2 separate regions of the Homo sapiens genome follow, and region 2 is linked to region 1. The links come from fine-mapping of genetic effects on gene expression. A gene starts in region 1. The other region holds a variant in brackets. All regions are shown on one strand. Distances are between the middles of the regions.

Region 1 (9,614 bases):
AGAAAAACCAGTGTCACAAGTTCCACTGACTGCAGTCCAAAGCTCACTGAGCGTTTCACAGCAAAAGAGCTTTGTCTTTTAACTCTTACAGTTTTACTTTTTACTCAACAAAACTTTTGAAGGAATTTTCTTTATGAGTAGATGTAACTGCCTTAGCTGATAGAGCAGATGCTGGGATTCCCCAAGATAAAAAGATCCTATGAATCCCCATCAACCCAAATTCTTTTTTTTTTTTTTTTTTGAGACAGAGTCTCACTCTGTCGCCAGGCTGGAGTGCAGTGGTACAATCTCGGCTCACTGCAACCTACGACCCCCTGGTCCAAGCAATTCTCCTGCGTCAGCCTCCTGAGTAGCTGGGACTACAGGCGCATGCCACCACGCCCAGCTAATTTTTGTATTTTTAGCAGAGACGGGGTTTCACCATGTTGGCCAGGGTGGTCTCGATCTCCTGACCTTGTGATCTGCCCACCTCGGCCTCCCAAAGTGCTAGGATTACAGGTGTGAGCCACCGCGCTCAGCCCAACCCCAAATCTTTTCACCTTCTTCCAGACCAACACACAAGACCCGGCACAGAATCACTATAAACTGTGGGCCAAGGAGAGACACAATGAAGCTTGCTGAGCTACCTGCAGGGGACCAATGCACCCATCCTTGAAATCCCTCCAGGAGGGCTAAATTATGGTTTTAAAACAATACACTTGTCTAGAAGAGACATTTATGGGGCCAGGCGCAGTGGCTCCCCGCTGTAATCTCAGCACTTTGGGAGGCCAAGGTGGGTGGATCACTTGAGGTCAGGAGTTCGAGACCAGCCTGGCCAACATAGTGAAACCCCATCTCTACTAAAAATACAAAAATTAGTTGGGCACGGTGGTGCATGCCTGTAATTCCAGCTACTCGGGAGGCTGAGGCAGAAGAACTGTTTGAACCCAGAAGGTGGAGGCTGCAGTGAGCCAAGATTATGCCACTGCACTCCAGCCTGGGTGACACAGCGAGACTCTTGTCTCAAAAAAAAAGACATTTATGGGTATCGATCAGCATCCTGTCTTTGTCGTGGGGAGCTGTTCTATGCACTGAAGGATGCTGAGCAGCATCCCCGGCTTCTACCCAGTCAGCAGTGCATGTACACGCACCCAGTGGTGACAACCAGCAATATCTCAACACTCCCAAATGTCTTCTGGATGGGGCAAAATGAGCCTGGGTTAAGAACCACTAGTAGAGATGCATGCGTGTAGTTTTAGCACCTTTAAATATACCAGTACTTCAAATTAAATATTTAAGGTCATATAAAATATAAATTGTGACTTATGAAATCACAGAGAAAAACAATTTAGTCAGACTTCAACTTACGGATGTTAAAAATCAACATTTATATCAATGTACCCTGCCTGATGAAAACAACTCCTAAATGGTAATACTTCATAAATGTGTATTTCTCACAATAAGAAAAGGAATAAAATGGTTCCACCAGATAATACTGTATATTTTCCAGGAGGCTTCTTTCTCCCAATATCCAAGATTCATATCTTACAAACATCTGTATCTTAAATTTCAGATTTAAGTCTTAAAAAAAGTACTATAGGTGAGGTATGAAATATTTAATGTTTATATCAAAAAGGGCAAATACCATAAACCCACACTGAACTACCCATTTGCACTTTGCCTCATAGTTGAAATAACCTATACATTACCGGAAAGGATCTGACACAAAATTAAGCTGCAGCCACGAGTCCAGGTGGAGCACCTGTCAGGTGGAGGGGAGCACCAATGCCCCTCTGCAACCAGTGTCGCCCAGCACTCCCAGGAGGGCACAGCAGGGCCGCCTCGGGGTCACAACTGCAGCACCAGAGCTCCCAGGGATGCTGTGTTCCAAGTGCTTGTCCTCTCCGCATCTGCTCCCCAGAGCGGAAAAGCTTCCCTTCTGCGTCACACTCTGCTGAAAGTCCTCCCAGTACTTTTGGTACTGGGATAGCACCTTTCTGATCTTTTTGGTTGAGAAAGAGGAGATATGCTAGTCCAGGCAAGGATACGCTTAAAACCTACAGGCTTTAAAGCTAATACTGATTTTTGTTGTTATTCAAATAATGACAAGAACACATACAATTTTTCCTGCACTTCAAGGTAAGCTTTGTTAAAATGATAAGATATCAGGGGGCTCAAACATCGAATACAATATACGAATAAGGGCCACTTTCTAAGGCGGATTTTTCTACAGCAGGTTAAGCATTAAAGTCCCATTTACCACAAGCCAAAAATATCAATTCTGAGTGTGTAAAACCCACTGCATTCACACGGCAATCTTTATCATAGCTAGGAAGAAAACACGGGGGGAATCCTGTTCTGAGCTATTCCTTTATCTTATACAGAAGGTAGTGTTTTGAAGCCCAAAATGTGCAAACCACCTTCACAGCAACTTGATCAACCCACCAGCGGGAGTCGCCTCCTCCTGCTCCTGTTCCGTTGTGAAATCTTAAGACTTTGTGAGATTCCCAGTTCCCTGGCCATGATGCTACCGTAAGGGCTGGGTCTAAGAACCCTGGAGAACAAGAAGCGCCATCCAGAAACTGAATATTTCAAGATTTACACATGAGAACAACGGCTCTCAAATGGAAGCTAGCTTAAAATTATGTTAAACTCATAATATAATTAATAGTAACTTTTTTGCTACATAATTTTAAAAATTCAAAGTGATACCAAAAGTAACTATTATTACATGTGGGGTTCTGAAACCTTTCGAGCACACAGACAACCTACATGGTAGGGGCTGACCTGGACATAAGAAGGAAGTTCTTATGTCTGGACTGGCAGAGAATCAGCACCCTACTACTGCCTGCCCACGAGGAATGTGGCACCATCCGCAAGCTGCAGCACTGACTGCTTCCATGTGGGACTCAATCACCTCGAACACAGCCTGGCACAGAACAAGACACTTGATACATGTTCGATGAAGTCAAGACATCGTGATTCACTCTCCTCACTAGCACTTTATCTTTCTTTTACAGATAAGGAAACTGGGGCCCAGAGAGAAACCTGTGCAGATGCTGTGGTTAGTAATGGACAAGCCAGGCCACAAGACACTATTTTACCAAAGTGCTGCCATGTTTTTGTTTTTATTTTTGTGGGCACACAGTAGGTGTAAAATGCTGCCATTTTAAGGCAAAATAAGAAGTATAGCATTTTCACTTGAATAGAATTGTATTAACACAAAGTAAAATCCAGGCTGCTCACCAGCATTCACCTAAGATAAACAGCTTCTGTTAGCAAAAGGGCCAAAGCAGGTCAACTAAACTTCCCAGCACTTGGCAGTGAAGCAAGTTCCAGCTGGCTTACTGACGTCACCATTTGAACTTAACATTTCAAATGTTAACACAGAAACATTTACATATAAAGATCAAAGTTCTGAAGGATAAAAAGGCCTTGACAATAGGCGACTTAAGATGTATCCCATTCGGTAACTCTTCAGACAATTCTGAGTCTGGAAGAACAGGTTAAATTTGTTTGGCTTTTGTTTTAAGGAAGCGTGTCTGGGGAAGACTATCACTGCTGCTTTGTGCTAAAAGTGCTTTTAGTACTGGAAAATTCTACTTAAAAAAACAAAAATACTTTAAGTTAATGTGAGTTATAACTAATTTAGAGCATTTAACCACAATCCCTAAGTTAACTGAAATATTTCCTAAAGCCTCAGTAATATACAACTCTACCTGGCTTTTCGTAAAAGTTTAGGCAGTCTGATAATAAATCCTCAACCAAGCGCAATGAAAAATCTTGCTACTAATCACGGTGTGTGAATTTAAGGTAAAGAGCTACAAATAAATCTCTAAATAAAGTGTTAAGAAGCCTCCCTGCTGGTGTGAGTGAGGTGCAGTGTAGAGTACCCTCTCAGCGCCACCCAGTGCATTCTCAGTGTGTGCTGATGAAAACAAAAAGCCAAACTCTCTGACGATGCCCAACATACACACAAGGTAAAATCTATCTAATGACTACAGCAACAAATGGTGCGTTTAACCATTTCGGCCACTCACTGGCTGGAGAATCCTGGCTAAGTCACTTTCTCTGAGCTTCTATTTATCTTCTATACCAAGGTGGATAACAGCAATCTCTCCTTATGAGAAATGAGATATACACGAACTACTTCCTGTATAAAATATGTTAGATACACCAATACCAACAAGGCAAACAGAAAGACAAAAAAACCCTATGAAGAGATGGGGCTCCAAGCACTTGCTCAGCTCCTGTTTAAATTCTTTCTACCTTATCCGTTCTATTTGAAAAGGCATCTCAGCGTGCAAGGACCAGCCAAGGCCAGGGCAGGGCCCTCGGGGACATCTGGCCAGCACTTCAGGTTCTGGGGATGACTCAGGTGAGCCTCCCTCCCCAAGGGACCTCCTACACGCACACACACACCCCGAACCGGGGGCGGGCGAAGGAGGCCTGGCTGGTGGAGTCCTTTTCTGCGGCCCAGGCGTCGCAATATCCAGTCCCTCTCGTCCAAGGACGTGCAGGGTCTGTACTTGCCCAGTCGCACTGGGACTTCAAATTGGGGATGCAGACACGGCCCTGCTCCTGGTGTGCGCGAAGCCCGCTCAGCCGGCCAGCTCGCCTGCACGCCCGCCGCGTCCCTGGGCCCCAGGAGGGCCCCCGTATCCAGCTCCGACCAAACAGCAAGCCCGCAGTTGGCGAGCATCTTTCCCAGACCGGGAGCGGGGACAGAGCAGAGCAGACGGATCCGACCAGCGCACCACGGCGCCCCAGGGCCCTCCTACCGTCCTCGGCCCTCGGCCCCCCGTTCCCCGGCCACCGCGCGGGCTCCGCCGCTCCTGGGACGCGCACTGGCTCCGGCCCGGCGCCACCCTCTGCCCCTCTGTCACCCCGCACGGAGGCTCCCATCACCCAAGCCGCGCCCAGCCGTCGCCGCGCCGTTCCAGGAGGCCTCCGTCCTCTCCCTACTCCGCCCCGCAGGCCACACGGCGCCCCGGCCCCGCGCGCGGGCTGCCCCTCGGCGGCGCTTCCCCCCCGCGAGCCAGCAGAGGCGGTCAGCGGTCGGGTACCTGCGTCCAGTGGCGGCCCGTACAGCGCGAGTGCGGCCGAGAGCAATGCGACAACGACCGCGCCGGCGACGGCAGTTCCGGCCCCCGCGCGTGTGACCATCCCCGGGCCAAATGGAATCGACCTTACCTCGTCTGCAAGCCCGGATTGCCCCACAGCGAGGACCCAGGGCCATCGGGCAGCATTCCGGATTCCCAGCTGCCCCCGCGCCGTCGCCGGAAACACAGCCATTGGAAGCGTTTTCCGGTTTCCCGACCGCCTCCGCGCGGCTGTCGGCAGTGGGATCCCAACTCGCTCAATCACACCCGGTTCTAGATGATTGACAAGCGCGACGCCCAACCCGGCCTGGTCCCAGCTCTGGCCTAAGAGGTTCGGCTGGAAGGCAGGTTGAAGAGTTAACAACGATCTGGTTCAGGGTCTGGTTTGTGTTTATCGGCCCATTTTTAGGCTTGCGGCGTTATAGAAAATGATTTTGCTGGCAGGTGGAGTGCCGAGGCCCACTATGTGCCCCCAGTATAGCAGTCAGGTGCCTTTCTGCTCCAGGCGCAACCTCTGCCCTGAACCCCAAACCAGCTCGCTGCGAGGCCCCTTCGCTTTCCACCGTCTCAGGTCAGGGCAGCTCCATCACTCCAACGCTGAGGCCCAAACCCCTGGAAGGCATTCTGACCTCTCCTGCCCTCCCACCCACGCTCCTCCTGTGGCTGATGGCCTCTTACCTCCACTGCCGCCCTATTTGAAGCCACCGTCATGGTGCTAAAAGAAACTTGTGGGGCCAGGTGCGGTGGCTCGCGCGTGTGATCCCAATGCTTTGGGAGGCCAAGATGGAAGGATCGTTTGAGCCCAGGAGTTTGAGACCAGCCTGGACAACATAAGGAGACCCCCTTCTCTACCAAAATTTTTTTGGAAAATTAGCAGGGGATGGTGTGGCACACCTGTAGTCCAGCTACTTGAGAGGCTGAGGTGAAAGGATGGCTCAACATGTCAGAGGCCTTTTAACCAGAGCGATTCCATCTTGAATAGGGACTGGGTAAAATGAGGGTGAGACCTACTGGGCTGCATTCCCAGGGGGTTAGACATTCTTGGCCACAGGATGAGGTGGTGGGCACAAGATACAGGTCACAAAGACCGCACTGATAAGATGACACAGTAAAGAAACTGGCCCAAAGCCTACCAAAACCAAGATGGCCACAAAAGTGACCTCTGTGTCCTCATTGCTCATTATTTGCTGATTATAACGTATTAGCATGCTAAAGGACACTCCTACCAGCGCCATGAGAGTTTACAAATGCTATGGCAACATCAGGAAATTACTCTATATGGTCTAAAAAGGGGAGGAACCCTCAGTTCCAGCAATTGCCAACCTCTTTCCCAGAAAACTCATGAATAATCCCCTCCTTATTTAGCCTATAATCAAGAGATAACTATAACTATGTGTGGAGTTAGTTCCTGCCGGTGGGTTCATGGTCTCACTGACTTCAAGAATGAAGCTGCGGACCTTCACAGTGTTACAGCTCTTAAAGGTGGCATAGACCCAAAGAGTGAGCAGCAGCAAGATTTATTATGAAGAGGCCGGGCGTGGTGGCTCATGCCTGTAAGCCCAGCACTTTGGGAGGCCGAGGCGGGTGGATCACAAGGTCAGGAGATCGAGACCATCTTGGCTAACACGGTGAAACCCTGTCTCTACTAAAAATACAAAAAATTAGCCGGACATGGTGGCGGGCGCCTGTAATCCCAGCTACCCAGGAGGCTGAGGCAGGAGAATGGCGTGAACCTGGGAGGCAGAGCTTCCAGTGAGCCGAGATCGGGCCACTGCACTCCAGCCTGGGCCACAGAGCGAGACTCCACCTCAAAAAAAAAAAAAAAAAGATTCATTATGAAGAGCAAAAGAACAAAGCTTCCACAGCATGGAAGGGGACCCAAGTGGATTGCTGCTGCTGGCTGGCGGGGGTGGGGGGGTGGGGCAGCTTTTATTCCCTTATTTCTCCCCTCCCATGTTCTGTTTCTGCCCTATCGGAATGCCCTTTTTTCAATCTTTCCTGCAATTGGCTACTTTTAGGATCCTGCTGATTGGTGCGTTTTACAGAGCACTGATTGGTGCATTTTACAATCCTCTTGCTAGCTACAGAGCGCTCATTGGTGCATTTTACAATCCTAGCTACAGAGTGCTGATTGGTGCATTTTACAATCCTCTTGTAAGACAGAAAAGTTCTCCAAGTCCCCACTCGACCCAGGAAGTCCAGCTGGCTTCAAGTCTCATAAGTATATTCAGTCAAGCAGCCAGTGCCACTGCTCTGCCTATGGAGTAGCCATTCTTTTATTCCCTTTCTTAATAAGTTTGCTTTCAATTTATGGACTCGCCCAGAATTCTTTCTTGCACAAGGTCCAAGAACCCTCTTGAGGTCTGGATTGGAACCCCTTTCTGATAACAGAGTGAAACCCTGAACTACACCTACCAGACCAAACCAGTAAGGAGTTTAACTACAGTAACTGAGCTTTACTTCATGGCAGGAAACTCTGTAACCAGTTAAGCAATGAAGTTATAATCAAATTAGCTGTCTCCATCACACACTTCTGTTTCCTATAGGTGCTGTCAGATCAGGTTCCTGATTGGAGTTCTCTTATCTGCTCTGGTTTGGAGGGCTGCCCCATTCGGGAATCTGTTTTGTTTTGCTCAAATACACTCAGTTAAAACATACACGTGTCTAAGGTTTTTCCATTTAACAGTGTGTGGCCTGGATGATGGCAATAGTCTGCTGCATGAGTGTCAATGAAAAGAGTCAAACTCTAAAATATTCGAGATTTATTCTGATCCAAAGATGAGTGACCATGGCTTGTAACATAGCCCCTGCAGATCCTGAGAACATGTGCCCAGGGTAGTCGGGCTAAGCTTGGTTTTATACATGGTAGGGATACGGAAGACATCAATCAGTACATGTAAGAAGTACGTTGGTTCAGCCCAGAAAGGTGGGACAACTCCAAGAGAGGAGCTTCCAGTCATAGGTGGATTCAAAGATTTTCTGATTGGCAATTGGTAGAAAGTTTACTTAAAGACTTGGAATCAGTAGAAGGAAGTGTCTGGGTTAAGATAAGGGGTTGTGCAGATGAGGCCTCCAGGTAGCAGGCTTCAAAGAGAATGAATTGTAGATGTTTCTTTTTGTTGTTGTTGTTGTTTGAGACAGAGTCTCACTCTGTTGCCCAGGCTGGAGTCCAATGGCACAATCTTGGCCCACTGCAACCTCTGCCCCCCAGGTTCAAGCGATCCACCCTACTCAGCCTCCCAAGTAGCTGGAACTACAGGCGTGCACCACCACACCCGGCCAATTTTTGTATTTTTAGTAAAGACAGGGTTTCACTGTGTTGGCCAGGCTGGTCTCCAACTCCTGACCTCAAGTGATCCTCTGCCTTAGACTCCCAAAGTGCTGGCATTACAGGTGTGGCCCACCTCACCTGGACTTTGTAAATGTTTCTTATCAAACTTCAGGTGCCGGACTCTTAGTAAATTATCTCCTGGATCAAGAAAAAGACCTGGAAAAGGAAGGGGAGTCTCCTCAGAATGTAGATGTTTTTCCCCAAAGAGACAGTTTTGCAAGGCTATTTCAAAATATGCCAAATGAATATATTTGGGGTAAAATACTCCAGTTTCTTTCAGGGCTTGCAATCTGTCACATTGGTATCTTATTGCTACAAAAATTCTGCTTTGTCAGTCTTAAGGTCTCTGTTTTAACGTTAATGCTGGTCAACTGTGCCTGAATTCCAAAGGGAGGAGGGTATAATGAGGCATCCATCCCCCCTTTCCATCTCGGCCTGAACGAGTGTTTCAGGTTTACTGTAAAATGCCCTTGGCACCCTCCCCAGCCTCTGCCTCTGTCATCACATGATGGTCTCCTTGTCCTCACGTGGGATTTTCCTCTCCTTTAAGGACACCAGTCATATTGGAGTAGGGCCCACCCTAATGATCTCATCTCATCTTAATTCAATAATCTATAAAGACCTCACTTCCAGTTACGGTTATAGTCACAGGTACTAGGGGTTAGGATTTAACATATTCTGAGGAGACACAACTCAACCCATAATACCTTCTGTTAATAAATTAACCTCCCTGCTTTCCTACAGCAATAGAATGATCTTTCCTATAAGTCAGATCATGTCACTCCTCTGCATAGAACCATCCAACTGTTTTCCATGACACTCAGATTAAAATTAAGGTGCATTCCATCACTCTCCGACCCCTATGTGATTGGCGCCCCCAATCACCTACAGCTGTCGGAGGTCTCCGGAGGGTCTCTGGATGCCACTGAGACCCCAGCCCCAGCCAGTTTCCAAGTTCTTGACACCAGCATGAGAAAGAATTCAGGGACACGTCAGAATGAAACGAAAGGCAAGAAGCTTTTACTGCAAAGCGAAAGCACACACGTAAAAGAGAATTGCGGGCGTGCTCAGCAGAGTGAGTCACATCAGAGTTTGAGTTTCTAATTTTATGGATTTTTTTTTAATTAGGGGGTGGAATAATCATAAGGTATTCTGGAAAAGGAGTGATTTCAGGGACTCCCTCCCCCCATTACCACAGACTT
Region 2 (9,614 bases), 23 kb before region 1:
CATAAAAGTCGACTGGTGTGAGATGACCCAAGTTTTTGCAATGTACATGTTCATTTTTAGGGGTGGCTTTCCGGAGTCTGTTTTGAGTAAGAAAAGTGGGATCTGGCCAAGCTCTGCCTAGCCCTTGTCAAAGATATCTCATTCACCTTCCTCTGGCCGCAAGGCCCAATGTCTGGGCCCACTCTGGGCTCATATTTCTGTAATAACAAAAACTGTCTTTTATCATGGAAGCAATAACTGAGGGGTGTGTGAGGTTTAAGTAGTTTGACACCAAGGTCAAATGTTGTGTCTGTTTCTTATTTTACACACATGGATTTAACAAATAGGTACAGCTGCCCCTTCCACACCGCCCCAGGATCTGTTCTCAGTGGGAGGACAGCGCGAGGCCTTCTGCGCAAATCCCGTCCTCAGCACCTGAGGCTGTGAATCTCAGACCATTTGCCGAAACACACGTGTGCAAGCGCTCAGTCGCTGCCCCCCAGCCTCATCCTCAGGTTGCTCCTGATACCTCGGCCACAATTGCGTGAGGTCTGGAAGCCAGGGAGCGTTTGTGTTCAGGGCGGGGCGGCATGCAGCCCCCAGCCCTTTCTTCCAACTCCCGAGTGAGGATCACTCAGCCTTGCTTGGACGACAGATGCTCAGAGTTGAGTGGAGCCTTGCCCAGAGCCCAGCGCTCGCGGGCTGTACCCATCCCTGCCAGACCCAGAAAGAGGCCCAGCTGCAGGGAATCAGGGAAGCCCAGGGCTGGGTGGGTGTCGGCCCAGAGCCCAACCACGGGGTGGGGAGGGGGCATCCACAATCCACAGTCTCCGGGGGACGTAACCGCGCCCTGCTGGCTTCAGTACGTTTCAGGAGACGGCAGCGAGGCTACCTTGCATGGTGTGGTGGACGAGCTGGTGCGGTTCCGGCAGAAGGTCCGGCAGTTTGCGCTGGCCATGCCCGAGGCCACGGGGGACGCCCGGCGGCAGCAGCTCCTAGAAAGGCAGCCCCTGCTGGAAGCATGCGACACCCTGCGCCGGGGCCTGACTGCCCACGGCATCAACATCAAGGTGAGTGCCGCACCAAGGTCAGGGACATCACCCCAGGAGCCGGGTAGGTCAACAGGACGTGGGGCCATCAGAGGCCCAGACATCCCCCGTGACCATGCTTTTTTTTTGAGACGGAGTTTCACTCTTGTCACCCAGGCTGGAGTGCAATGGCGTGATCTCGGCTCACCACAACCTCTGCCTCTGCCTCCCAGGTTCAAGCGATTCTCCTGCCTCAGCCTCCTGAGTAGCTAGGATTACAGGCATGCACTCCCATGCTCGGCTGATTTTTTATTTTTAGTAGAGACAGGTTTTCTCCACGTGGGTCAGGCTGGTCTCAAACTCCCGACCTCAGGTGATCCTCCCACCTCAGCCTCCCAAAGTGCCAGGATTACAGGCGTGAGCCACTGCGCCCTGCCCATGCTTCTGAGTAGAGAAACCCACCCCCATAAAAAATGAGGTGGGAGGGCCGTGAGGGAGGGGCCAAGTTGGCTGCAGGGGACGCTGAGCACGGGGACGTGGGTCCTGCTCAGCCCCCGCCACCTCCTGCAGGTGCCTTGAAGCTCCTGGCCTTCTGCTGGAGGTAGTGGGGCCCTTTCTAAGCGCCTGGCAAGCTTTTTAGGACAGGCCGGTGAGGGAACAGGCACCCTGAACCTGATTACGCCTGTCAGCCCCCTGTGCCACATGACGTGGTGTCTGCTCAGAGTTGGACCTCACTCTTCTTCTCCAGGACAGAAGCAGTACAACATCCACGTGGGAACTGCTGGATCAAAGGACAAAAGACCAAAAATCAGCGGGCTGAGGATGGAGCACAGCCATGAACCTGCTCACGACAAGACGCACCCATGCTTCTCAGGGTCAAGGCTTTATGTTAAAGCTTCCTGTCGGGGCTGCTAGGTCAGCATTAAAGTAAGGCAACCAACAGTGTCCCACTGGCGTCTGTTTGTTAGTAACTGAGCCTAAACACTCACTGCGTTCTGTGGCTACAGACTCACCGTCGATTGAGTGAAGTAGTGTCAGACATTCAGTAGCATCCAGCAGCACACGTGCCTGTGCGTGAGACCTGCTGGCCCTGTGCCCAGGGAACAGACAACACAGCCAACAGAAGAGCAGGGACCCCGGGAGGCGGCAGAATGCAGCCTGTTTCCTCCTGAGGGAGGGGCTGGGGATGGGTGAGGTGGGTGGGCCACGCAGCATAGTCTGAAGCAGAGGTGGGACGCCAGCAATGCTAACCCCGGGACACCTCCCCCAGCAAGAACACAATCTTACGTTTTCTCTCTGGTTACAAAAGTAACGTATTCAGCATAGGAAAAATGCAGCTGAGAACCCGTCTGCAGTCCCGCTGCAGTTAACATCCTGGCAGCTGCAGGCCATCTTGGTGGTCATGGTCTGTGCAGAGCAGTGATGGGGTCGAGCTGGGCCTGGGAAAGGTTGGTTCCGGAGGAGTCAGGGCAGCCAGGCTGAAAGCCAGCTGGCGAGCTGTGACAGACAGGATTCCTGAGCGGGAGGTGGCGGCCAGCACACGGCAGGCTGCCTGGGCTACAGGACCGGTGGCCTCCTGAAGCACCCACCTTGCTCCTGATCTCACCCTTCTGTGGTAAGCCCAGCGCCACAGCTGTCAGTGACTCAGCAGGGTGACCCCTCTCCACTCTTCCTGCTCGCAGACCCTGGGCCAGGCCTCTCCCTGTCACACTGGCATCTCTGAATCCCAAGGGCACAGGCAGCAGCGGGACCCGTGACTGGGGATACGGGCTTGCTCATCATTTAACCGTGACCCTGAGGTACAGGTCTCCTGTCTACAGTTCAGAAGTCACTCACCTAGAAAATCACCCTAGTAAAGCTACCCACATAGAAAAAGTCCCCAGAGGGCTCCTTACAATGAGGCATCTCGACAGGGCTGCTCAGTACTGGGGCATTACGGGCCGCCCACCCCCCCACACTTTCCCGTTGCTCTCCTGGTCCAGGGAAGCTCCTGGGAGCGTGTCCGGCTGGAGCGAGTGCGTGAAATACGTGGGTTTGAGAAAGAACATGGAAGCAATGAGCTGCTTGTAAAAAAACCCATTCTCTCCTTTAAGCAAAGGGATGTTTTACTTAGAACAAAAACCAGACGAATAGTTCCTGTGACTGCTGAATTCTATTTCCTAAGGAAAGAAGGGGCTGCCTTGGGCTTATCCTTCAAGGTGCTTTATTGCAGCCACCACGGGAGAGGCGCTGGCGAGGAGGCCAATCTCACACAGACAGGCTTAGATATTCTTATCTCCCTGGCATCTCACACAATGTCCTCACCTAAGAAAGTTGAAAGGTGAGCTTTAGCTGTTTAAGGAAAAAAATACAATACTCAATTTAAATTAACCAGATCTGTCTTTTAATAGTTACCAGAATTTAGATGTTAATTCCCCAGAGGAAAAATGTCCATGGCACAGTTTTTCTGGAAAAGTTCACATGTAGACAGTGAAGCTTCTGAAGTTAGGCGTCAAATTAGTAGTGACAATCTTTTTTTTAATCTTGAAAGTCCCTAGTTTTAAAGAAAGTAGAATCCATCTGGGGCATGTCTGCATCACAGGGTATCACTCAAGAGTCATCATCAGGCCAAAAAGACTCTGAAGGGAACCAGGAGGGTTTGGCCCTTGCTGTGGAAAGATGCTACTGAAAGTATAAGAGAACACCCTAATGCACGCGTCAGGCACGAAACCGTACCATGCCCCGCTAAGACATGGGACCAGAGAACACGTCAACGTCAGGCCGCTCCAGGAAAACCATCCACAAAGACAACAGAAGCTAACCCGAGGTCGACACTGCCATGAAGAGTGTTGGCTGAAACCGCAGTTACCAGTGTCTTTACTGGACGCGAACATCCCTAAGGACACGGCTGTGCTGCTTCCTAAGCATACGTGACCACGATACTGTCTTTCCCCGGGTCTCCTTAGCGCCATCACTGCACCAGGCCCAGCATGCCTCAAGTCCTCCAGAGCCTTCTCCTGAGACAGCACTAGGGGCCACGTCAGACCCCAGGCTGCAGCCCTTCACCGTGCCCGTCCCCGGTCCGGTCTGCCCTGCTGGGGCCGGTGGGTATCATGGGGACCCCTGTGTAGACACGGACACCGGAGAGCGTGGGACAGGAGGCGTCTCAGAGCTCCCCACCCACACACTCAAGGGTCAGCGTCACTCATGTTTCCTTCTGTTCCCATGGTGCCTCCAAAAGGGTTTCCAAACAAAGTCATCATTGATTACCCTGGAGTATGTCAATAAGCCAAACACCAGCAGCCAGATACCACCAAGCTAGTCACCACTTTAAAAGAAGATGAGCTGGAGAACGAAGCAGCCCTCTGATGGACCCAGTCAGTGCAGTCGGGACTCAGGGAGACACCCGGGGACCCCTGCCCAGCTCCCTGCCGGAGGAAAGACTAGGGAAGGGAAGCAGAGGAGGAACGAAGGGCGCCGGCAGAGAGAGTAACAAGTAGAAACTTCGCCGATCTGGGAGCAGGCCGAGAAACTCTGTTGAGCTGCTAAAGAATTCTTCATTCTCATGTGATTTTCTTCATTTCTGTCTTCCCAGTTACTACCAAGGAGCTAAGGAAAGTTCAGGAATACTTTGTTTAGTGTCGCCATAACATCTCCAACCATGCATTAAGTTTAACCAA[A/G]AGCTGCAATATTCCAGATTCTTAAATTCTCAATGGCAACCAATTTATGCTCAAGTTGAAAATCTGGCAAGCACCGTACGCCTTCAGCACACGCGTGGGTCCGGATTTTCCCATCACACACACGCTCTCCCCCGTCCAAGGTGCCTGTTTACTTCTGGTCTGCGCGGGCTCAGGTTTCAAAGAGCTTGCTGAAGGCGGCCCCCACCTCGGCGATCATGTCGGAGGTGGTGGTGGAGCGACCGTGCTTCTGGAAGGCTTGGTGGTTGCACTGCCTGGTGAGAGAGCAGGCGCCAAACGCGGCCACCAGGAGAGGGCTGGACCTGCGGAGAGGGGGACAGCAGGAGGTGTGGGGAAGTGGGCGTCGTGGTCCGGGGGCCGCAGCTACCCTGGGCTCTGGTTTTGACTCCTGTTTCAATCTCAGGACCCCAAATTGTCAATTTCAAGTCTGATATGCCCCTGAGGAGAAAGCAGGTTTATCACAGCGAAAACCACCATTAACCCTCCACTACTCCCTGGCAGGAGGCACACAGGAAACGTCTATGTACTCGGAGACAGGTCCAGGGCTAGGGCACACAGTGGGCCAGGTGTTCCCGGGGAAAGCCAGGCGGCACAAGCTGCTTAGCCCTGTTTGACTGTGCTCTCAGTGCCCAGGTGCAGAGGGCATCTGAGGTCTGAGAATGGGGATTCCTGCTACCAGGGCTCCATCTCCTGGGGGAGGGGTGGAGGCAACTCGAGTGAACACAGCAGAATGAACAGTAAGACTCCTGCCCACACCCCTACCTCCTCGGCTCTCAAATTCATGTGGACACACCTAGTTTGGGGGATGGTCCCAGACTCTGCCATCCCGGCAATGAGGACACATGAGGCCACTGGATGACAGCCCTGCCCACCCTCCAGAAGCCCGGGTCTGCCACACCTAGCACCTGCAGCCACCACCTTGATGGGCTCACAGAAGAGAAATGGAGATGCTTAGAGGTATGGGAACTGCTTGCATTCATAAAGTTCTCTGACTACAGAACTGGGCCAAGGGCCCTGGTCCTAGAATTCTGCTGTCTCTTAAAGAAAATTCACATCTTTAAGAACAAGTGTCTAAGTAAGCCTTGACCCTGTCTGTTTTCTATCTTAGTATTCTGTGTTACACAGAATAAACCACTCAACTTCCCAGAACAGCGTGCTGCTGGGCCTTGGTTGCACCTCGGAACTCTCTGGAGAGCTCTGAAGACCACCCCTGCCCCAGGCCCCATCCACAGTGAATGATGGACAGGCCCAGGCCCAAGTGTGGGGTGGAAGCTTCTGCCAAGAGGGTTCGTCTGTGCCGAGATCTCTCCAGTGAAGCCTAGAGTTCATTGTCAGTGTTTCCAGGGCTACTTATTCAACGCATGAGCTACTGAAACAGCTTAGAAAAATCAGACGGTTTCAAAGTAGAATAAATGAAGACGTGGCCTTACCCATTTGTTTTCTGTGGTCCAGCAAGGAGCGCCCAGTGTACCAGGACGCCCAGGGAGCCCGACAGGAGGTCCCCTTGCCCTCCACACCTGCGGCTGCTGCCTTCCTGGCTGCACACAAGCACTGCACAGGGCAGAAGTGAGAGCAGGTGTCAGCATGGCCATGTGTGTGAATGTGACAGTAGCCACGGGTGTGGAAGGCCGCACGGCAGGCAGAGCCACACCCTCCAGGAGCAGCCTGAGGCTCCACTCACATCCTGCCTGCTACGGCTCTTCCCTGTTTGTTCCAAGGGTTGGAGGCAGCCTCTGTTTTACAGAAGAGGAAACCAAGACACGCAGTGGTGAGGCTGCCCCAGACCCCGCTGTGTAGCACAGCAGGTTGGTGGAGACACCTGCAGCTCGGAACCGCCTCAGACGAGCCCAAGCAGGCAGCTCTGAGCAGGGCGGCGCCAGCCTCCAGCTCCTCCCACCAGCTCCCAGGGACGGAGCCCTCACCTGCAGCCCACACTCCAGAGTTCACCTTAAACCACAGCTCAACCATACAGGGCAACACCGAGCGAGGCCTCCACCGGCCTCATAACGTCACGTATGCCTGTGTATGGGAATTCTCTATTTCTTTGAAAAATGTTTTGAAAACCAGGTGTTACATTCTCTGAACCTGTTAGACCCAAGAGAGCCTTCCAGTGATTAAAAAACCCTCATCTCAAAGGTGTCAGAGTCCCTCTGAGAACATCTGCTCTGTGTTCCTTGTGCACAGCTGTGTGTGGATGAGTGTGCGAGGGCGTGTGCGAGGCTGTGAGCATGACCATGCATGTGTATAAGTGCGAGTGTGCAAGGGCGTGCGAGGCTGTGAGCACAACTGTGCATGTGTATGAATTGCATGCGTGTGCACATATGTGCATGTGAATGTGAGTGTACAAGTGTGGATGTGCACACACCCGCCCACAGACGCCTCAGTGTTCTACCCTGATTTTGGTACCTAGTCCAGCCCCACAGCTCAGCAGGTGAGCACATTCGCTGCCCATCATCTGTCCAGGCCTGAATGGAGGGGCTTCCATTTTCAGCGCTAACAAGGGCACGGCTCCCCAGATGCCTCGCTGGCGCTGGGCCCGGCCTCTGCCCTGCTCTCACTTGGCTCTTGCTGAAGCCTCCCCAGGCTCCGTGGGAGTGGCCAGTTGAGACTCGCCACACTCAGTGCCTGAGATTCCACTACCAGCATCAGCTTCGGGGCTTTCTGCACTTTCCAGTCATTTTGATAAAAGAGAATGAAATGCAATAAAATACCCAAATAACTGCATGGATGGTGGATGCCACAGGTGAGATGAAGGTGGCAGCTGGAGACGCGGGACCCTGCACTGTGCCCTGCTGTTGCAGGCACCCTCCCGCCAGACTGCTTCTCATAACTGAGGCAAGGGAATTCAACCAACGGGTAAGGCCCACGGCTCGAAAGCCTGCCCTCACCACTGTCACCTCCCCTGGCAAAACAGTGAAAAGTCAAAACATGGACTCTGAAGAAAGTGTGGTTGACGAGCTCATCAGGAATCCCTGTGTGAATGTGTGTGAACACGGGTGTGCACGGGAGAGGTCTTCCAGGGCTCATGCTCGGTGTGGCCATGCTGACTGACCTGGCACTGGCCCATGCACAGAGGGCAGCCGCCACTCACCCTGCTGGCCGTTGGAGAGGATGTCGCGCTCTCCTTTCTGGACCACCGTCACGTTGCCCAGGGCTTGGCTGAGTCTTAGCACAGATCCATGGCTGTCATCGCTGTCCATAGGGCCTCTGAGCTATGACAACACAGGAAGACAGAGAAAAAGCAAAGTCTTCCTCAGACACACGACGACAGATAGCCCTGTCCCATCCGCCATGAGACTCATGCTCTCGTGTCTAAAGGGATCACCCAGGCACCTGTTAAAGGCCATGTAGGTGGGAGGATGCCCAGGATATCACCTGCAGTGAGTCCTCCGAGCAGGTGCTGACACGGTGCCTGCTCCAGTGCCCATCCTCTACCTCATCAGAGCAGGCTGAAGGAGGACCACCCAAGACTGGGTTCTGAGAGCTTTGCAGGAGTAATACAAATTCCAGTCGTACTGGGCACTAACATTGATGGGACACTTACCATGTGGGGACTCACGGCTTTACATAGGTTTCCTCATCTCATCCTCACAACCCCGTGAAGCTGATGCCATCATCACATTACAGATGAGGCACTCAGGACACAGACAAAGTGACCTGTCCAGAGTGCACTGCAGGAGGGGCTGACTGACCCGAGTCCCTGCCTGTCCCAAGCCCACTACACCATCGTTCATCCAATCCAAGCGCATTAATGGGAAGACGCGCCATCCGCTGGGAGAGGCACAGCGATTACTTGCAGGTGTGTCCACAGGGACAGGCTGGGCAGAAGCATGGAGCTCGTCCTTCACCCTCTTCAGGACGAACAGGGCTTGCATCTACCCTCCAGGGGGTCCACTGACTCACCACAGCGTCATACAGTCTGCTGAACTCCACGTGGTTGGGAGTGAGCACAGCCTTCCGGTAGCCATGGATGAGGGCCGGCTGCTGAGCGACCAGCCACAGGCCATCCTGCACAGAACAAGGAGCCGTGCTCACTGCACAGGCCTTCCGGGAGTCCGAGCCAGGAGGAGAGAAGTCAACTCACCGCGTCGATGACAACAGGGATGTCCCTGGCCTTTGACACTTCCAAAATGCCCTGCCAGAAGAGAAAACCAGACTGAGCACCATGCCTGCTGCTATGGTGTGGGTATGTGTCTTCTCAAAACTCATGGTGAAACTTAATTGCCAAGGGAAGGGTCCTGGGAGGTGGGGCCTTTAAAAGGTGATGTGGCAGTGTCCTCATGGGTTGGTTTAATGACCTTTAAAAGAGGCATAAGGGTCTCTCTCCTGCCCTTCTGCCCTCGCCAGATGCCGGCACCTTGATGTTGGACATCCACCTTCAGAACTGTGAGCCAGTAAACGCCTGTTCATTATCAATTACCCAGTCTGTGGTACGGCTACAGCAGCGCAAAACCGACTAAGACACTTTTCCCAAGAGTGACAGAAAATTGAGCAGACTCTTAATAAAATGCAACATCAGGCCATCAAACAATAAATGGAAAATAATCAAGTAAATGAATAAAATAGAGAAGCAGAAAGACCCAATGAACTCGCAGAGCCCGTAAACAAGGCAGGACACTGGGAACTCTGAAAGGCGAAGCCCACTGGAAACGCTATGAACAACAGCTGGGCTCCTAGGCTAACCCATGAAGACAGCCCCCGCCCCAGCAAGGGCATCCAGTTCTCCAACAGATACTAATACGCAGCATTCGGAGGCAGGAAATCTGAATTCCTGAGAATTCCCCAAATCATTAGTCATTATGTATTTTTCATATCACTTTACTTACACGTTTTAAAATAACAACAATAATAAACAGGGAATCATTTTTCCCTGATAGGATTACAGTGAAGGTTTCAAAGGTTTTCTATTAAAAAAAAAAAACTACATGTA

Alleles and levels. Positions count from the first base shown, and alleles are read on the strand shown. Sizes are in standard deviations (SD) of each study's normalised expression.
For the expression in skeletal muscle of the gene that starts at base 5,275 in region 1, A is the high allele of the variant in region 2 and G is the other (moderate effect, 0.55 SD a copy in GTEx).

What was found. PIP is the estimated chance that this variant, and not a neighbour inherited with it, causes the effect.
Region 2: its variant is fine-mapped to the expression of NAXD in skeletal muscle (GTEx, PIP above 0.99). The same link has a PIP of 0.9 or more in spinal cord.

What each region holds. Positions count from the first base shown.
Region 1 is chr13:110,611,206-110,620,819 of GRCh38, reverse strand. It overlaps NAXD (NAD(P)HX dehydratase), which reads right to left and starts at 5,275. Exons shown (of 10, transcript NM_001242882.2): 1 at 5,173-5,275. The coding sequence starts at 5,218. It overlaps NAXD-AS1 (NAXD antisense RNA 1), which reads left to right and starts at 4,467. Exons shown (of 1, transcript NR_182301.1): 1 at 4,467-7,738. RefSeq lists enhancers at 4,246-4,295, 4,316-4,365, 5,267-6,194, 9,506-9,614 and silencers at 4,646-4,805, 4,816-5,065.
Region 2 is chr13:110,633,750-110,643,363 of GRCh38, reverse strand. It overlaps NAXD (NAD(P)HX dehydratase), which reads right to left. Exons shown (of 10, transcript NM_001242882.2): 6 at 8,769-8,819; 7 at 8,588-8,692; 8 at 7,776-7,896; 9 at 6,115-6,235; 10 at 3,368-4,986. The coding sequence ends at 4,836. CARS2 (cysteinyl-tRNA synthetase 2, mitochondrial) reads left to right here. Exons shown (of 15, transcript NM_024537.4): 14 at 843-1,049; 15 at 1,756-1,947. The coding sequence ends at 1,827. Among named protein-coding and RNA genes, the nearest start is that of NAXD-AS1, 22 kb to the right of the region's middle. RefSeq lists enhancers at 5,824-6,652, 7,483-8,311, 8,312-9,141. The variant A/G (reference allele first, on the strand shown) is at 4,667.